6 linked regions of the Homo sapiens genome follow. The protein of the gene in region 3 purifies or fractionates together with the protein of the main gene of each other region. This does not show direct contact. Each region holds a gene or a part of one and is shown on either strand. Other genes may lie near its edges.

Region 1 (3,500 bases), on a different chromosome or scaffold from region 3:
AATACAAAAAAATTAGCCAGCGGTGGTGGTGGTGCCTGTAATCCCAGCTACTCGGGAGGCTGAGGCAGAGAATTGCTTGAACCCAGAAGGCAGAGGTTGCAGTGAGCCAAGATCGTGCCACCGCACTCCAGCCTGGGTGACAGAGTGAAACTCCGTCTCAAAAAATAAAATAAAATAAAATGGAATGAAAAGGACTTGCCTAATGTTCCCTCCCTTTCCTCACACCTCCAAGTGCTGCTCACTCTGGCTTCTGTGCTCCCTGGAAATGAAGATTCAAAATGCCACACCACTTACCCTTTCCGGAGGTGACATCAAACACCACTCCCTTCACTGCCAAGTAGATGGGCTGATCTTCCTAGAAAGCAGGGGAGAAGCTGTGAAGAGGAAGGGAAGAGCCAGCTCTTCCAGTGCAACTTAGTAAAATCTTCTCCCATCACAAGCTGAGCAAAGAGCAGTGGGTCAAGTCCCAAAGGCTTTCTGTTAAGCCTGGTCCTTGGCGAGCTTGCCACCTGCCTGGGCAGCGTCATGCCCGCACACAGAAATTTGGAAAAGTCATAAAGTCTCATGACAAGAATGTGGCAATTCTCTCCTTTATAGAGAAAATCAGGGGCCAGGCACAGTGACTCACGCCTGTAATCCCAGCACTGTGGGAGGCCAAGGCGGGCGGATCACCTGAGGTCAGGGGTTCAAGACCAGCCTGGCCAATATGGTGAAACCCTATCTCTACTAAAAATACAAAAATTAGCCGGGCATGGTGGCACATGCCTGTAATCCCAGCTGCTCGCGAGTCTGAGGCTGGAGAATTGCTTGAACCCTGGAGGCAGAGGTCGTAGTGAACCAAGATCATGCCACTGCACCCCAGCCTGGGTGACACAGTGAGACTCCGTCTCAAAAAAAAGAAAATCAGGAACAGAAGCAACTTCATGGAGATGAAAATTCAAAAGAATAGTAAATGATGAATTACTTATCAGTCCAAATTTCCTTTCCTCTTCATCAATAGACATACACGGATGTGACTGATATGAGCAATCTATTTTATATTTTGCTTCTTACAGGTAACATTCCCTCATATAAACATTTCCACCAAAATGACTGTCATTTAAACAGCTCCATGGGGCCCCATCTTTTTTTTTGAGACAGAGTTTCACTCATGCTGCCCAGGCTGGAGTGCAATGGCGCAATGTCAGCTCACTGCAACCTCCACCTTCCGGGTTCATGTGATTCTCCTGACTCAGCCTCCTGAGTAGCTGGGATTACAGGCACCCGCCACCACGCCCCGCTAATTTTTTGTCTTTTTAGTAGAGATGGGGTTTCATCATGTTGGCCAGGCTGGTCTCGAACTCCTGACCTCAGGTGATCCACCCACCTAGGCCTCCCAAAGTGCTGGGATTACCGACGTGAGCCACCATGCCCGGCGTAGGGCCCCATCTTATATTAGTGATATTGTCTACCTATTTGTTTAGCTAGCTTTCTATTTTGGGTATTTGGGTGGTTTCCAATCCTTAGAACTATAAATGGCAGCATTATGAATACATGTTTCTATCAATTACTTTCTAATTTGGTGACTTATTTCATTGAGGCCTTTATTTAAAAATTTCTCTCCACCCAGTGAATGCATAGGAAAGTGCCCTATTTCAATATATGGAATTCCTGGGCCTAAGTATATGAAAACTTAATCACTGTTTATATTTTATTAGTTTGTCCTGTAACAACATTTATAGTGCTAGAGATATGTAAGCAATGCTGTTTCCCCACCGTTCTACTAACAATGGGCTTTACACTTTTTTTTGGCTCTATTAGCAGGCATAAAATGTTACCTCAGAATTTCCCCACCAAGAAAGAATTACACAAAAAAGGATGGCATGACTTTTCTAGCTTCCATCAAGTTGGGCTCAGGCTGGGACGATGGGTACAGTCCCAAGACACCCAAGACAAGATCTCTCCTTTGTCTCAGTGCCATCAGAGGTGCAGGGGCATCAGCCAGGTGGCTCACAGCCCAGGCGAGGGTGGGAGTCGCTGCTGGGTCCATAGGAATCTCAGGCTCTGCAAGCACCTGCTGCTTGGCCTTCTCTTTGGGGTGGGCCTTAGTGTTCTTGCGCTTGTGCAGCTTATGGTGAAGGGTTTTCATGATCCCATTTAACAGACAGAGGAGCTACTGAGGCTCAGAGAAGCTAAGCAACTTGCCCAAGGAAACACACCTCACTGCCTCATAACCACTCAGGCCTGCTTCTCTGCCTGTCATATGAGGGTAACGCCCACTTGCCTCGGGAATGCTGAGGAAAAGAGTGTACGTAATACCTAGCAGGCACGACACAGGAGCTCAGCAGAGGGCTGCCTTTTATTACTCCAAACCGGCTCCTAAAGACAGGCCCTAGAGGACTGCCATTGACTCTGTGGACACTTGCTCCACCTCATCTAACACGGGTCATTTGAAACGGCCTGGATTTCCAAGCCAGCAGACGGCATTTTTCTTTGTGATGATTTACCGCCTTTCCTTTACCAGGTTTCCTTATTCCTCAGCTTTGATTATTTATCAAGTGGGATTATGTATTTATATCAATTTTAAAAATATATTACAGCTATCATTTAACCCCAGTATTTTGTCATATCTTCCATTCTGTGGCTTTCTCCTTGATACTTCTTTTCTTTTTCCTTTTTTTTTTTTTTTGAGACAGAGTCTTACTCTGTCACCCAGACTGGAGTGCAGTGGTACAATATCGGCTCACTGCAACCTCCACCTCCCCAGTTCAAGCGATTCTCCTGCCTCAGTCTCCTGAGTAGCTGGGATTACAGGCACACGCCACCATACCCAGATAATTTTTGTATTTTTAGCAGAGACAGGGTTTCACCATGTTGGCCAGGCTGGTCTCAAACTCCTAACCTCAAGTGATCTGCCCGCCTCGGCCTCCCAAAGGGCTGGGATTACAGGCATAAGCCACCATGCCCAGCCGACACTTATTTTCTATGGGCAAACAGCCATATAAATATAACATTCACATACATAAGATAAACAAAAACATGCATCTTATCACTAACACTCTTTTCTTTTTTTGTGGGGGGGGGACGGAGTCTAGCTCGGTTGCCCAGGCTGGAGTGCAGTGGCACAATCTCGGCTCACTGCAACCTCTGCCTCCCAGGTTCAAGCTATTCTCCTGCCTCAGCCTCCAGGGTAGCTGGGATTACAGACGTGTGTCACCACGCCTGGCCAATTTTTTTTTTTTTTTTTTTTTTGTATATTTAGTAGAGACAGGTTTCACCATGTTGGCCAGGCTGGTCTAGAACTCCTGACCTCAGGTAATCTGCCTGCCTTGACCTCTCAATGTGTTGGGATTATAGGCATGAGGCAACACGCCCGGCAAACAATCTTTTTTTTTTATGAGAAGGAGTTTCACTCTTGTTGCCCAGGCTGGAGTGCAATGTCATGATCTTGGCTCATCGCAACCTCCGCCTCCCGGGTTCAAGCATTTCTCCTGCCTCAGTGTCCCGAGTAGCTGGGATTA
Region 2 (3,121 bases), on a different chromosome or scaffold from region 3:
GCAACTTCCACCTCCTGGGTTCAAGCGATTCTCCTGCCTTGGCCTTCAAGTAGCTGGGATTACAGGTGCCTGACACCATGCCTGGCTAATTTTTATATATTTTTTAGTAGAGACAGGGGTTCACCATGTTGGCCCATGCTGGTCTCAAACTCCTGACCTCAGGTGACTGCCAGTCTCAGCCTCCCAAAGTGCTGGGATTAGAGGCATGAGCCACCATGCCCAGCGAATACAGATCTTTTTGTACACCCTTCTACACAATCACATGCTCCAAGAAACACCATGTCCTTTTCTTCCTCTCCTGTAAGACAAAATTTTAAGAAGAAAATTTGTCTGAGGAATCAGTCCTCCGCCAGTCCTTATTTGCAATGTCTGGCTAACTGTCAACCTGTGGGTCCGTCTCCCAACCTACAGGACCTCATATCCCTCCCTTCTCAAATGCCTACCTCTTCCCTTCCCTTCCCCACCCCACACCAGACAACAGGCAGAGATAAACACAGTCATCAGCTCCTTAAACTTGATTTTATTGTAATCATCGCCATCAGTGGTGATGATTTGTCCAATTTGGTTTCTCCATGTGTGACTAATCCTCCCCACTGTCCTGTGAAGATCCTTCAGATAAGCCTAGGTCTTCATCCTCCTGTGAGGATCCTTCAGATGAGTCTAGATCTTTGTCCTCCTTTGAAGGTCCTTCACATGGGCCTAGGTCTTCATCCTCATTTGAAGATCCTTCAGATAAGTCTACGCCTTCGTCCTCCTCCTTTTGGATTGGATTGATGGAGTTCTCTTGGGACTGTTCATTCTCCAGTTGATTTGAATTTATTTTCTTACCCTTCCTGAGGTAATACACAAATATTATTGGATATTCTGATGTTTTTGTGTTCTTCAAACTCTGTTCGGGGGCTAAGACTCTGTTTGGTACCTCTTGCATCTGGTAAGAAAATAGGGAGAGGCCAGAAAGACATTATTTTGGGTGAATAGGATAGAGACTAGATAGCAAGGGGGGCTTTATGAGAAGGAATGCAGGTGGAGGAAGGGGTGTGTGCCAGAGAAGAACAAGGTGAAATCATAGGGTAGGTATCTATGCAGAAGAAGAAGAGGAGCATGGGTAGAGTCACCTGTTAGTCCAAACTGCATGATTTTGTAAGTTTTTGCTATGTTGCAGACCTTGGTCAAAGTGAAACATTCCATGGGGGTTCAGGCCATGAGCAACATCCTGCCTAACCACCTGACCACAAGGTGGACAAAGGCTCAACTAAAGAAACATCCCTATCATAAGTCCTGTTCCCCTTATTCTTTCATCTTCTCCAGCCCTGGGCTAACCTCCAGATATTGATTAAACTCTCCATCTTATTTTTCCTTCATTCCCCTTTCCAGGCAGCTGCAAAGGAACACCACAATGATATTCCACTGGAAAAAGGGCCAAACCACCTGATCATAAGAACATCTTATCAATATCCTCCTGGGCAGCAAGCCATACTGCCCAGCTCCCTCCCACCCATACCTGTAAGTACCCCAGGCTATAAGCGGCAGTGGGCTCTGGCATTAAGCTGGTCCCCCACTTCCACAGGTGTCTGCAATATTCCTGTGTTGTTGTTTGAGATGCACCCTCTCTGTCTGTCTTTCTTTCACCCTCATCTTCCCTTCAAAACCTAACACTTTGGTGCCAAAACCCAGGACGGTGATTGGGTTCTAATGGGTAAGTTTTCTCTTGCAACCTGGAAAGCAGAAAGCAGCAAGCAGCACAAACTAGACCGGGGCCTACTTCCAGATCCTGAGTGGACTGTCTGTTCCCAGTCCTGTTTCCCCTATTCTCTCATCTTCTCCAGCCCTGGACTAACCTCCAGATATTGATCAAACTCTCCATCTTATTTTTCCTTCCTTCCCCTTCCCAAGCAGCTGCAACCAGGATCACCCCCATTGCTGGACATCACATCCAACACTGGGCTTCAATTCGTGGGTGAGTCTCCCTATTCTTCCTTTCTGGATTCCTTTCTATTTCTGCTTGTTCTCCAAAAAAATTCCAGTGCTGGGTGAGAGGTCTCCCCAGTCACCAGGTGACTGCAGCCTCCCTTCTCAGGGGACAGCCTCAGAACACTTGCCATTCTGGCCGCTCCGTCCTCTGGGGAGCATGAATAGCTATGGGGCTGTCCCAACTCTCCAGGTCCCTTCTCCCAGGTGGAATCCAGTACTCACTTTCCTCTGGGGTATTCACTTCCCTCTGGAGAACTCACTCCCCTCTGGGGTATTCACTCCCTTCTGGGGTACTCACTTTCCCCAGAGTATTCACTCCCATCCAGAGTATTCACTCCCCTCTTCTAAAAAACAAAACATTCAACTTTCAAATTCAACATCATCTAAAAATCTTTCTCCAACACAATGGTAAATGATCTGAAGTGCTTTGCTTATCTCCGCTCATGCCTCACTCACTCTCCTGCCAATCTTGTTCACCTTTTCAAATCTTCCTCCTCAAGGAGAAACCCCCCAAAATGCCTCCTCCTCGGGACAAGCCTTCCTCCTCTGAATTTCAACCTGGCCAACAAACCCCTTCGTCTGGCTCCTGCCCTCTCCCATTCCCTCCACCTTCTCCTTCGGATCCGGCTCCTCCACCCCCTTACTGTCACCCTCCATCCCCCTTCCTTCTCCACCTCAAACCAGGTCTCACGCCCAACGCTCTTTTGCCGAAAACCAGACACATGCCCAAAGGCCTTCCAAAGTCTTTCCCTTGCAGGAGGTTGCAAGGACTGAAGGCATAATCTGAATTCAAGTTCCCTAGCTGACTTCTCCCATACTGAAAAGAGACTTTGCTCCTTTTCAATGGATCCTACCTCCTTCCTCAAGGAATGTCTGTACTTCCCTAAATCTTATGACCTTACCTGGCATGACATATATGTCATCCTCTCCTCTACCCTCACCCTGGAGGACAGGGAACACATATTTACGGGTGCCCAGGTCCATGAGAACACCCTCCACCAACAAGATGCTGCTCATAACCCAGTAGGGACCCTAGCTGTCCCCAGAACTGACCTCAATCGGAATTATCAGGCAACTTCTGTAGACAGGCAGAAACCAGGCCATATGATATCATGCCTTCTAGCTGGCATAAATAAAGTCGCCCCTGCTC
Region 3 (2,205 bases):
AAAACAAAAAACAAAACCAATAACTCAGTAAGCAGATTAAACAAAGGTAGAGACGGAGCCCTCCACCCCTCTCACACACTCATCCTCACACCCAGCTATACCACACCCCACAAATGTTGCTTATGTTTCCTTGGTCATTCTGTCCATCCTCCTGTCTGTCCAAAGCCAAGGACACTGCTCTACTCTAAATTTTTTGTCCCGAAGCCCCCAAATACTGCAACCCTGACCCAATGCACGAAGCCACCCCAAAATACAGCAGAGGACACCAGGACTTTCATTTTCCCTCAGTATGGCCCATCCTTTGGGTATGCCAACTCCATGTCCACCAAGCACTGCATGTAGGACAGGGCACAGTTTGGAGGCCTTGGTCCAGCCACTGCCCCAGACCCACCTTGGCTCTCTCCTCACTAACACCCGAGAAGCCCAGACTTCCCAGTGTTTAGCAACAGATTAAACTCTAAGCCAACAACAACAGAACAGGGTGGAGTGAGTGGAAAGCAAATGAAATGTTAAAAAAAAAAAAAAAGCAATACTTGCATTCTCATTAGTAGGAACATGTGAGATGAAGCATGTTATGTTATTAGGCATTCTCTTGATTCGGTAAACACAAGCTGAATAAATTTATAAATATCAGCATTAAGCGAGATTTAACGGGGAGCTGTTTATCTTCTGCCTGTCAGGCAGGCGGCAACACTCTCCATGTATCACTCGCCAGCCGTGCAGTCCTCACTCTCTTGCCCAGGTAAGCTGGGGAAGAGCCTGCTGCCGCCCAGCTCTGGTTGTGGAAGGGCTGGCACCAAGGAGCTGCGAGCTTACCTCAACTCATCTCACCTCACCATGCCGGCTGCGAGGCGGCCCGTGCAGTCCGTGCGCAGGAGGTCACACTCCCATGCTGCATCCCAGCCCCTCCAGAAGCAGAGCATGACCTGGGTGACTTTGAGGATGCTATTTAACCTCTCTAAGCTAAAGCTCCTCGACTGCAGCATCAACAGATCAGTGCCGACCTGTTAAGGCCGTCGAGAGCATCAAATGCTACTGTTCAGCAGGTGCCTGACACATAGTAGGTCCACAAGCAAATGATTTTCCTGCTTGCATCATTTCTAGCACAGAGCTGGAGGAAATGGCGAGGTGCAGGTGGCCGCTGGGCCCTGCTGTTCTACATGGGAGCAAGACAGCTGCTAGGTGAAGGGGAATGACCAGGCAGCCACAGGGAGGACATGTGGCCTCAGGAAGCCTGGGTGTGTATCCTGGTTCTGCTAGGAACACGTGTGGGGCTTTGTGTGGGTGACTCTCTGGCTCCCCAAGCCTCCCTTTCCTACTGTTATATCCTTAAAGTGCCTCTGAGGCCAAAGCCTTTGTGGCAATTGTCAAATGAGTCCATATGCAGTGAGTACCGTGTTGAGGGAGGACAAGGTCACCAAGAGCTGAGAATGTTTCTCCGACTGATGAGACCTAGATATTGGGTACATGGAGGTCCCCGGTCCCTTTGTGATTCCTGCAGCCTGTTGCCTCCTTGCCTGGACCCCGCCTCAGCTCAGAAAGCCAATTCCCTAGATTCCAAAGGCCTTCCCAGACCAATTAGCATGTCCTGCAGCTGTCAGCTCCCTGTGCCTAGCCTGGACCTCAGCTCATGTCTAGCACCCAGTCTCCCAACCCCACACATATTCACAAATAAAAGAAAATAACAAATGACATGAATTCTTCACTCCTGGTCTGGCTTGCTGTGTGTAAACTGCTATGACAATACAAGACGCAGAGGCGGGTACCCAATAAAAGCTGTTGAAAATGTGACTGACACCGAGTTTCAGCTATCCAGGAAGGCACGGATCCTTACAAGGTCCAAGCAGAGTCCTCGAGAATAGTTGAGAATTCTTGGGTTCCATATGAACTAGGAGATACCCACACAAAGGCTTGGATTTCCCAATACATAACTACCCCTGAACACTCCTTCTTTCCCTCGTCTCTCTGCTGAGACCTCTAGACCCTAAGGATCCACCCAGGACAACCTCTCCAAAGGTACCCTGATATGCTTTTCTTCCAGGCAGCATTTCCACAGAGCTGTGGGTGAAAGTCACAGGATGAAAATGTGCCATGGGACTGTATCTCCCACCAACACACTGCAGGCAAGGGGCACACAGAGTGCCCCCTCTGCCCATCCCAGGAATGGCCATCTAAGAATGATGCAATCTTTTCTAAAAAGAAAGT
Region 4 (3,500 bases), on a different chromosome or scaffold from region 3:
TGTGAGCAGTTGTGGGTCCAACTAGAAATGTCTGCATATTCAGGTCGGATTCTTTGCAACCCTCCTCCAGGGGTTCAAAAACATTCATCTGGCCACTCTGCTCAGGGAAAAACATCATTAAGTATCTTTTAATCCCAGTCTTTCCATCCTCAACATTATATATCAACTAGTGATCATTAAAGGTATTTTGATTGAGAATTATGAATACAATAAAATTTTTTAAATAAATGAAACTAAGGCTAATAAAAACTCATTAAAGCATTTTATGGGAAACAATAAACCTTTATTGATGCAATTAGCAGAATCGGGAGATTTTTACCAAGTAATATGAGAGGCCTAACATATATAAGTTAAGACTGGGAACCAAAATATTAAAGCCAATCAGAAATTCCAATATACATATTTAAGTGATTAGCAGATTGTAAGGTTTGCCCTTGAAGAACTAAAACCATTCTGAATCATATACTCTAAGGGATTTTTACTTTGTTTCGTTTTATTTGCTTTGGTTTTCCTTGATTTCTGGAAGTTCTACAGGTCCCAAACCAACAGCACAGGCACTTGGTGATAACTGACAACCCTAACCTCTTAGAAGAATTTCTATTCCTTTGAGGGAATGGGGCATACAGAAGGTTTTTAACAATATTACTTAGTTACTCATGGTACATACGACATCAGGATATTACGTAAAAGGTGAACTAGTATCAGGCTCTGTTTCCTCTTATTTTAAGAAGATTTGTGATCATGAAATATGTGATCCCACAATAGATTTTAATAAACACATTCCAAATAGGCTCATGTAGAAGAAGAAAGGGAGAAGGAGGAGAGGAAGTGGCAGTGATGGGCAATGTCACTTCATTCCGAGTTAAGGAAAGAGAGTCTGGAGTCCCTAGGAGTGTGACAACACATTCTGGAAAGTGTTCTTGACCCAGACACCTTTGATTAAAGGTGTCTGATTTGGAGAGGCAGAAGCTCTCCAAAACTGTGCACCAAACTCATTCCAACAATTATAGGATGATGAGGAGAATGACGCTAAGTCTGGTGGATGAGGCTGGGAACAAGGCTCTGGAAAGGGAACTCATGAGTTACACTGGCTGGGATCACTCTCAGAGGCTGGTTATGTCTTCTGGGAAACTTACACCTGTAATAAGGAAAGCAGGCACCAAAAGGCGATGGCACCTATGTCAACGGAGCTGCCCGTGTGGCTTAATGGAAGCTCAGCTAGTGAAGAATGTGGGCTCTGGAGTCCAAAACTGTGGGTTCATATTTTGGCTGGCTACCTGTAAGCTGCAGAACCCTGGACAAGTTATTTCATCTTCCTAGCTCTCAGTTTCCTCACGTGAAATGAGAATGATAATAACACTACGGGGAGCTGCCGAGAGGTCTGACGAAACGATGCACATGAAGAGCCTGGGCATGGCACCTGCCGCGTGCCCAGAGGGCTCCTTCATTGCTGGGGTGCTTCCCACTCTCAAGAAGAGTGCAGTGGAGCCCAAATCCCTGCACTATCACTTACTAGACAAGTGACCTGGAACAAGTTAGTTAAATTCTTTAAGCCTCAGTTTTCACATCTGTTAAGTGAGGGTCTTAATAGCTCCTTATTGGAGGGTGAGGATTGTTTGCAAAGTACTAGAGCCCAGTGTCTGGCATGTAAGTGCTCAAGAAGTTGCAGCCACTTCCCTCACATTTTCACAGTGATTTCATAATCACAGCTTTTTTTTTTTTTTTTTTTGAGATGGAGTCTCACTCTGTCACTCAGGCTGGAGTGCAGTGGCTCAATCTCAGCTCAATGAAACCTCTACCTCCTGGGTTCAAGCAATTCTCCTACCTCAGCCTCCTTAGTAGCTGGGATTACAGGCATGTGCTACCACGCCCAACTAGTTTTTGTATTTTTAGTAGAGACAGGATTTTGCTATACTGGTCAGGCTGGTCTCGAACTCCTGACCTGCAGTGATCCACCCGCCTTGGCCTCCCAAAGTGCTGGGATTACAGGCATGAGTCACCACGTTCAGCCCGTAACCACAGCTTCTGATAGTCCCAACATTGCTATGATGTCTAAGCAGCAGGATGGATATTATTAATCAACCAATCAATACGTACTTATGGAGCATCTAAGTATTAGTTTCCAAGGTGGCTGTAACAAAGTACCACAAAATGGGTGGTACTCTCTCACAATCTTGAAGATAGAAGTCCAAAGTCAAGGTGTCCACAGGGCTCTGAAGCATCTAGGGAATCCCTCCTTGCCTCTTCCTACCTTCTAAGGTAGGCAGTCTTCGGTTTGTAGCTGCGGATCACCAATCTCTGCTTCCGTTTTCACATGGCTGTCTCCTCTCTGTCTGGGCTTCTCTTCTTCTTATAAGGACAGCAGTGATTTTGGAATTAGGGCTGACCCTACTCCAATATGATCTTATCTAAACTAATTATACCTGCAGCCACCCTATTTCCAAATAAGGTCACATTCCCAGCTTACAGGGATTAAGACTTCAACATGTCTTTTTGGGAGACACAATTCATCCCATAACAACTTCCATGAGCCTTGTCCAAGAAGCATAAGATGGCCAAGGGACTCGAAAGCTAATCAAGTTTATCTCCTTAACTAAATAAAATACTTGATCCAATAGGAGAATAATTAGGTCCTAAATTGTGTGATACTGATAAATTAATAGGAATTTGAAGCAGATTAAAAAAAAACCCATGGTGTGTGCTATCAGAGAAGGTTTCAGGAGAAATCTGGGATCCAAAAATAAGTGGAATTTCAATTAGTATTAGTGGGGCTGAGCAGATCCCAGGAGGCCAGCTCAGCATGAAGGGAAGTCCCAGGCAGGAAGCAGCCAAGCTGGAGCAGGGAGCTCAAAGGAGTGAGCCCTGCATTTACTTGTTAAAAGAACTACTTAGTTTTGGTTGACCAACTTTCCCTTCACTTTCACTCCACACAAGCATTTGAAGGAATTATTTTTTCTGTACCTCTGCTTCCTACTATAGAGACTGGAGACCAGAGACAGAAAGAGAAGGAAAATGAGAGGCAAAACCAGAATATATTTCTAAAACTCCTCTTGAACAGGAAGAAGTCTCAGGAATATAGTCTGCATTTGTATGTTCTCATTAATTAGAATATATCCTCCAGAATTCCTCAGGATCAAAAGCGCATTCATGTATACAGCCCTAAGAGGGATCTATTGCTTAAGAACACATCATTACGCCCGGGTGCGCTGGCTCACGCCTGTAATCCCAGCACTTTGGGAGGCCAAAGCGGGTGGATCACCTGAGGTCAGGAGATCAAGACCATCCTGGCTAACATGGTGAAACCCCGTCTCTACTAATAATACAAAAAATTAGCCAGGCATGGTGGCACACGCCTGTAATCCCAGCTACTCAGGAGGCAGGAGAATCGCTTCAACCTGGAAGGCAGAGGTTGCAGTGAGCCGAGATCGCGCCACTGCACTCCAGCCTGGGCGACAGAGCGAGACTCCATCTCAAAAAACAAAACAAAACAACAAAAACAT
Region 5 (3,500 bases), on a different chromosome or scaffold from region 3:
CAAATCAGAACTAGTTATTTTGAAAGCTAACTACAAATAGTGAATGTTTAAAATGTCCTGTGTGTCTTCAAACAGAGCAATTATCAATATACAAGTTTATATTTCAAGAAACCTGCTAACGTATTACTCTTCAGAAGATAATGATACACATAAATTGTAAGTGTTTCCTGGAAAAGCTATGCTATTTCACCATTTAAAAATTATGGCCAGGCGCAGTGGCTCACGCCTGTAATCCCTGCACTGTGGGAGGCTGAGGAGGGTGGATCACCTGAGGTCAGGAGTTCGAGACCAGCCTGGCCAACATGATGAAACCCTGTCTCTACTAAAAATACAAAAAATTAGCTGAGCATGGTGGCGTGCACCTGTAATCCCAGATACTCAGGAGGCTGAGGCAGGAGAATTGCTTGAACCTGGGAGGCGGAGGCTGCAGTGAGCCAAGATCGTGCCACTGCACTACAGTCTGGACAACAAGAACAAAACTCCATCTCAAAAAAAAAGAAAAGAAAAGAAAAATTATATGCTGACTGAAGTTGAACTTTCCCTTCAGTAAGACTTGAAAACACCATATTATATACATTTATCTACTGAGGTAGCTTCCCCCAAAATAAATGAACTATTGCCTTATAGTATTGTTATTATTATCATTACCTTTTATGGGTTCTGTTTTGTCTTTGCCTGTGAATACCGGAGGTTTTGATACTAGTATAGGAACAGTCATGTCTTTTGGCTTTGGTGGAGGTGGCATAATTTCAACTTTGGGTGAAGGAGGCAATATAGCTCCTGTCTGCTTTTCCAAATAGTTGAGGATATCTTCTTTAAGTATTCTGCCATCTTTTCCTGAGCCAACAACTTCACTCAGCTTAATCTAAAAAATGATATATTTTAATGCCAAAAATACAACTATTTAAAAACATCATTAAAGTTTCAAAATGGAATTTGATCAACTGACAGTAAAATATATCTGTCCAATAAATTAGTAAAAGGAAATAACCTTTTCATTTTCTACTTAAGTAATCATTACTTTTGTATATACTGTTCACATATGCATGTGGTAACCATCAGGTATCTATATTATATATAATCTAGAGCTATTTATGAAAACTTACTTTTTAAAAAAATTTTTTGTAGAGACAGGGTCTCACTCTGTTGCCCTGGCTGGTCTTGAACTCCTAGCCTCAAGCTATCCTCTCACCTCAGCCTCCCAAAAGTGCTGGAATTACAGGCGTGAGCCACTATGCCCAGCTGAAAACTTACATTTTTATACTCAAGTATTTTAAAATCTCTTGCATAATTCTTACTCGACCTTTTCTATTCTTGGGGACTACATAAGAAGAGGGAGAGCTGAGAATTTAAGAGAAACTAAATGCTATACCAAATTTAGACCAATGTTTCTGACACTGGCTACCAGTTAAAAACGTAACAACTTAAATAATCATAATACAAAAGCTCTCTCAAATTAGTTATTTTTCTGGTAGTTGCTTTGGAAAGATCAGTACAAAACATTTAATTCTATTTAAATAAAAATAAACATAAAAGCTTGGAATGATCTCCTCATATATAGTATGTATTAATTTCTTAGGGATAGGCCCCATTTCATTTGTATTAGTGCATCTCTAAGGATGACTAAAATAATAAAGGACTTTACTAAGGCAAACACTAAGTTTGTAACAAATGGACTATGAAAATTTAAACAAATAATTTTTAGGCAGTTACAAACAACTGTAAATGCCACTGGTTCTTAATTTTAAACAAACTCAATTCATAAATATGCAAATTCAAAGAAAAAAGATGATTTCTGATAACTAAATCCAATATTTAATTTTTAGTAATCATACAAGCACTCTACCCAAGTATTCTATACCCATCTTTAGGGAGTGTTTTAGGAAAGCCAAATCATACATTTCTTCTATATATTTCTTTCTATATTATTAAGAAAAAAATTATTAAAATGCTTTATAGATTTCAAAGCAAAATGTTAAATCATTATTTCATCTGATGCCCTTAATAACCTAATGTTCCACGTTACTATATCTATTTTCTGTTATGCTAAATGGTCTTCATACTTAAACACATTTAAGGGTTACATAACATTTTATCAAGGATACATAACATAATTTGAATGTGTATGCATCTTCTAATTTTTGGCTATATAAAATACAAGGAAGAATGATTCCTAGATTATTTTCTTGGGATAGTTCCCCAGTGGCAGGATAACTGGCTGAAAGAATATGAACATTTTAATGACTCTATTACATATTTCACAAAATATAAACTTTTATTTTTTTCCCACAGCAACCTTACTTTTCTCAAAAAGAGACAAACAAAAAGTCTCATTGTGGGGCACAGTGGAAAGTATTCAGGTTTCAGAACCAGACAGATTTGTGTTCAAATCCCTAGTTCAGCTTACTTGGTTTTAGATAAGTTAATCAACCTGCCTGCAGGGTCCTTGTGAGGATTACAGATGTGTCTATAGTGTCTGGCACATATGTGCTCAAATAATGGAGGCAATGATTGTTGAGGTTTATATAACATCTAACAGCACAGGTTTTGGAGTGATATAGACTCACTTTTGAATTCTGGCTCTTGCTATGTTAGCTGTGTGACTTTAGACTAGTTACTTAAACCCTCCAAGTCTTAAAATAGCTCCTTATCTTACAGGGTTAAATGAGAATACGTAAATACCTATCCCAGTGCCAGGGAGCCACCCTGCCTGGCATTCCACCTTCCATTCAGTCAATGACTGGCAGAGGAAATACAAAAGGCCGGCCTCCTTGCCTCAAAGCAGTAATTCTGTGGTTCTCCCTTGCACCCTCAGATCAGGCCAGAGTCTTTCTTTTTTTACTTAGGACCATGGCAAGCTTTGGGACAGGCCAGATGCTTGATACCATAACCATGTCTGGCCAATTTCCCTTCTCTTCTCTTTTTTATCTTGCTTCCTTCAGTCCCTTTACAGGTTTTCCCTCCTTCAAATTCCTATCTCATGCTGTGCCTCTAGAGCACCTGACATAAGACCTGGTATTTACAAGTGCTCAGTAAATGGTAGCTCTTACTGTTATTAGGCTCTAAGAAAGAATAATAAAATCATACTGCTCAATTGATAGTAAGTAATAAGTTTACAACTTCTCATTTCTCCCATGTATTTTTATGCAACTATTGCTTTTCAGTAGCAAATATCTTCATGTTTCCTTAATTTCATTGAGCTATTTCATCATGGGATAGTTGGCTAATTTTTCAGAGATACAAATGTACACTTCCTATACAATCTCAGACTTAAATATTAAGAGAACTTACATTGTTTTCCATTGCCAGACGGCGAACTGCAGGAGTTGCCAGTGTTTTTCGGCCCTTTATCTCTTGGTGTGTATGTTCATCATGAGACACTGCAGGAGTTTCAACAACATCTTCTTCTGAATCTGGTAACAAGGTAAAACTTAACTTCAGTTGAAAAAAAATTTTTTTTTTTTACTAAGATGTAAAGTAAGGCCACTAAGATGTGGCCT
Region 6 (3,500 bases), on a different chromosome or scaffold from region 3:
AAGCAACTCTCTAGTGAGAGGCAGGGCTGTTCGTTGGCTAGACAGGTTCTCCACACTCTCCACCCTCACCCGCACCCCTGCACCAGGCAGGATGACAGAGAACCACCAATAGATAGCTGCTTGGCTAGGCTCACGCCCTTCTGCCAGGCTTCTCCAAATAAGGGCCACTGGAAGAAAAGTGTCTCTGCCTCATCTGCAGAACTGCAGATCAACTCTGCCCACTGAGCCCTCCGGCCCGAGTTAGGGCTTTGTGAGTCACATACCTTCCAGAACGCAAGCCGGAGTAGGTGTCGGGGGAATGGGCTCTCTCACGGTAACCACTCCTAACGGCCCCAACACATTTGTAGTCTTCATCTGTTCTTTATGGAGCCGGAATCATGAAGCCCCCTGACCCTTAGGCAACTTGCTTTTATCACCTGGTGAGTTCTTAAGGAATCCTGCTTTGGTTTATTTATGTATTTGCCTGTGTTTTACAAAGCTGTATCCCTCATTAGAGATATCTCTACTGCAAGCAAAGTGCCCTGACAGCATGTGGGTCTTCTCAGCCTTCAGACACGTGGTGCCAGGGATGCAAACCACGCTGTGAGAGCCGGGGCGGGCAAGCGGGCCGGTGGGAGCCTCACCTATGCGCCCCAGCCCGATGATGCCGACAGTGCTCTGCGTGAGTCCATAGCCACACAGCCAGAGGGGCTTCCACGAGGTCCAGCCACCACTGAGGGGAGAGAGAGGGGCAGGTGAGAGGCCCAGCCTTGGACCAAGATGGGGGCCGCTGAGAACCCGGCACCTCTGACTGTGGTCCAAGGTATAAACCCACCCTCCAGGTCACGGACTGAGAGTGGGATGAGGCACTGCCACTCGGCACTGCAGATGAGCAGCAGAAACGACTCCACCTTTAAAGCCACCAGAGACATAGAACTTGAGGGCGGGAAGGGGCCTTACTGGCTCTCATCCTGTTTTGCAGATGGGAAAACAAACCAGAAAGGGTGACTTGCCTGAGGTCACACAACCAGGGAAGAGTTGAGAGCAACAGGCTGCAAACTCAGGATTTATGATTCCAAAACAAGTTCTCTTGGCACTTTAGGGCAGCAACAAAGAGTACAGCCACAGGGCCCACCCTGCTGCCCTGGGCAAGAGATGGAGCCTGCCCTGAGCCACCTCCAGTAGATGTGATGACTCCCCAGACAGGACAGTGAGCAGGACTCAGCACTGTCTACTCTGCTCCATGCCCCGTGCCGGGGCCCACGCTGCTGGCCACGCACTGTGAGAGCCTGCGTTTGCACGCCTCCCACCTTGACTCGGGCCAGTCCCTCCATCTGCACATGGAATGCTTCCCCCAACTTTTTTTTTTTTTTTTTTTGGAGACAGGGTCTTGCTGTGTCGCCCAGACTGGAGTACAGTGACATGATCTCGGTTCACTGCAGCCTCTGCCTCCTGGGTTCAAGCAATCCTCCCACCTCAGCCTCCCGAGTAGTTGGGACTACAGGCGTGTAACACCACGCCTGCCTAATTTTTGTATTTTTTGTAGAGACAGACTTTTGCCACATTGCCCAAGCTGTTCTCCAACTCCTGAGGCTCAAACAATCTGCCCGCCTCGGCCTCCCAAAGTGCTGGGATTACAGGTGTGAGCCACCGTGCCCGGCCAACTCTAACTCTTGATATACAGGCCGAAATCCCTGATCTGAAACCTTCAGGCTAGATTTTAAAACTGTTTGGCCTTTAGAAAGGCAGCATGGCGCACGTGGTAGATTCCACACATCACCCTCTGCAGTGTCTGGGCAGCAGCCTGTTTTAAAAGTGTTACATCTGCAGCAAAACTTAGGAAAGTCACATTAAATGGGAGAAATAAAAGCCTTAAATAGTCTCCTGTTAGTATGAAAGAACTTTCAGCTGTCCGAGCTTTTTAGATTTTGGGATCTAAGGGATGGTGGACCTGCAGCTTTCAGGACTCAAGCGGACGCCCACCTGCTACTTATTCTGTGAAGCCCTCCCTGATCCACACTCTCCCTGCCAGCCCTCACCCACCAGCAGAACTTGTTTGTCCTCCCTCATCCTCTTCTCTCACCACTTCCCTTTCTGCCCTTATTGCAGCTCTGCTTTGTGCTTTATTTTAGCTGAGTCCTCACTCAATGGGGCACACCTGGGGTCAGGGACTATGCGTGGGCTGGACTGGCACAGTGATCAGGATCCAGTGCTGAGCAGAGCCAACGTTCCTGCCAGGCGTTCACTTATTTTTCTTTTTTTTTTTGAGACAGAGTCTCACACCGTCACCTGGGCTGGAGTGCAATGGTGTGATCTCAGCTCACTGCAACCTCTGTCTCCTGGGTTCACATGATTCTCCTGCCTCAGCCTCCCAAGTAGCTGGGATTACAGGGACCCACCACCACACCCAGCTAATTTTTTTTGTATTTTTACTAGAGACGGGGTTTCACTATGTTGGCCAGACTGGTCTCGAACTCCTAACCTCATGATCCGCTCACTTTGGCCTCCCAAAGTGCTGGGATTACAGCCGTGAGCCACCGCACCTGGTCTGCGTTCACTTACTTCTTCACTTCCTCGATGGCCTCCGGCAACCGGCGGCAGGTGGTAAGTAGCAGGGAGACTGCGAGTTCGGCGGTGGTATCTGTCAGGACATCTGGGGTGTAGCCAACTCGGATCCCACTACGAATCAGACATCTGGTGGTAACATCAGCCTCAACCATATTTACCAATGTCTACTGCTGGGACATTTCCATGGAGTTACTTTGCTCCCTCTTTGATCTGCCTGCCAGGAAGCTCAGAACTATAAATGAGCACTCAAAAACGGGCAGTCCTCATTCCTATTTAGATTATCTCCCACTTTGGAAGGATATGAAGATGGAAGATCAGGGTTCAGGGACTGAACAAGTAACTTAACCTTTCTGAATTTCCTCATCTGAAACAGAAAGAATAACACCTGCCTTTGCTACTTCAAGGTATTGTTGTGGGGATCAAAAAAGATAATGAATGTGAAAGGGTGCCACCTACACAGAAGTTACCCACTGTTTCTGACTGCTGGGGTTTATTGTAACTGACCTGTGCACATGTGGACAGATTCTATCATCAGCCACCTCACATTCTCCCTGAATGGCCGAGGGATATGCAGTAAAAACAAATCAACAGCTCTTCTTTCTCTCATAGCCACCCCTCTCTCTAGGCCCCCTCCAGATCCCAAGCTGCAGTTACCGCTTCTTGATTTCATCCAAAGCCAAGTGGTCGATGCCCACAGACATGGTGCTGATGACTTTGAGATTGGCCCCTGTTGTGCAGAAAGTGCATTGTTAGTATCTTTCCTCGAGGAACTCAAAGCCACAGCACTGGGGACTATCATGGGGACACCGCTTATTATTGTTTTCTTAGAATAAGAGGCTGACATCTCTGTTCTTCAGTTAAAACTCTGAATAATCCCCTTTGACAGCCTCAGACACTGCAGTTCAGGGAGGTTAAGTGGCCTGGCTCAGTCACAGGCAGAGCCGGGTTCACCT

What was found.
Region 1: the proteins of FAHD2A (region 3) and NENF fractionate together in Homo sapiens (co-fractionation; one large-scale study listed by BioGRID). This does not show direct contact.
Region 2: the proteins of FAHD2A (region 3) and SPANXN3 purify together in Homo sapiens (co-immunoprecipitation; one large-scale study listed by IntAct). This does not show direct contact.
Region 4: the proteins of FAHD2A (region 3) and MSRB2 fractionate together in Homo sapiens (co-fractionation; one large-scale study listed by BioGRID). This does not show direct contact.
Region 5: the proteins of FAHD2A (region 3) and DBT purify together in Homo sapiens (affinity purification with mass spectrometry; 3 studies listed by BioGRID and IntAct, with this or other methods). This does not show direct contact.
Region 6: the proteins of FAHD2A (region 3) and GRHPR fractionate together in Homo sapiens (co-fractionation; one large-scale study listed by BioGRID). This does not show direct contact.

What each region holds. Positions count from the first base shown.
Region 1 is NC_000001.11:212,439,420-212,442,919, reverse strand, and holds part of NENF (neudesin precursor), read right to left. Parts: intron 356-3,500; coding exon 295-355; intron 1-294. UniProt on the Homo sapiens protein: Acts as a neurotrophic factor in postnatal mature neurons enhancing neuronal survival. Promotes cell proliferation and neurogenesis in undifferentiated neural progenitor cells at the embryonic stage and inhibits differentiation of astrocytes.
Region 2 is NC_000023.11:143,508,235-143,511,355, forward strand, and holds the end of SPANXN3 (sperm protein associated with the nucleus on the X chromosome N3), read right to left. Parts: intron 929-3,121; coding exon 581-928; 3' UTR 501-580; downstream 1-500.
Region 3 is NC_000002.12:95,414,912-95,417,116, forward strand, and holds the end of FAHD2A (oxaloacetate tautomerase FAHD2A, mitochondrial), read left to right. Parts: 3' UTR 1-1,705; downstream 1,706-2,205. UniProt on the Homo sapiens protein: Tautomerase that converts enol-oxaloacetate, a strong inhibitor of succinate dehydrogenase, to the physiological keto form of oxaloacetate. It is thereby required to maximize aerobic respiration efficiency by preventing succinate dehydrogenase inhibition.
Region 4 is NC_000010.11:23,112,579-23,116,078, reverse strand, and holds part of MSRB2 (methionine-R-sulfoxide reductase B2, mitochondrial precursor), read right to left. Parts: intron 1-3,500. UniProt on the Homo sapiens protein: Methionine-sulfoxide reductase that specifically reduces methionine (R)-sulfoxide back to methionine.
Region 5 is NC_000001.11:100,215,335-100,218,834, forward strand, and holds part of DBT (lipoamide acyltransferase component of branched-chain alpha-keto acid dehydrogenase complex, mitochondrial isoform 1 precursor), read right to left. Parts: intron 3,414-3,500; coding exon 3,292-3,413; intron 866-3,291; coding exon 649-865; intron 1-648. UniProt on the Homo sapiens protein: The branched-chain alpha-keto dehydrogenase complex catalyzes the overall conversion of alpha-keto acids to acyl-CoA and CO(2).
Region 6 is NC_000009.12:37,425,696-37,429,195, reverse strand, and holds part of GRHPR (glyoxylate reductase/hydroxypyruvate reductase), read right to left. Parts: intron 3,275-3,500; coding exon 3,202-3,274; intron 2,659-3,201; coding exon 2,542-2,658; intron 713-2,541; coding exon 624-712; exon of another isoform or gene 355-623; coding exon of another isoform or gene 264-354; intron 1-263. UniProt on the Homo sapiens protein: Enzyme with hydroxy-pyruvate reductase, glyoxylate reductase and D-glycerate dehydrogenase enzymatic activities. Reduces hydroxypyruvate to D-glycerate, glyoxylate to glycolate, oxidizes D-glycerate to hydroxypyruvate.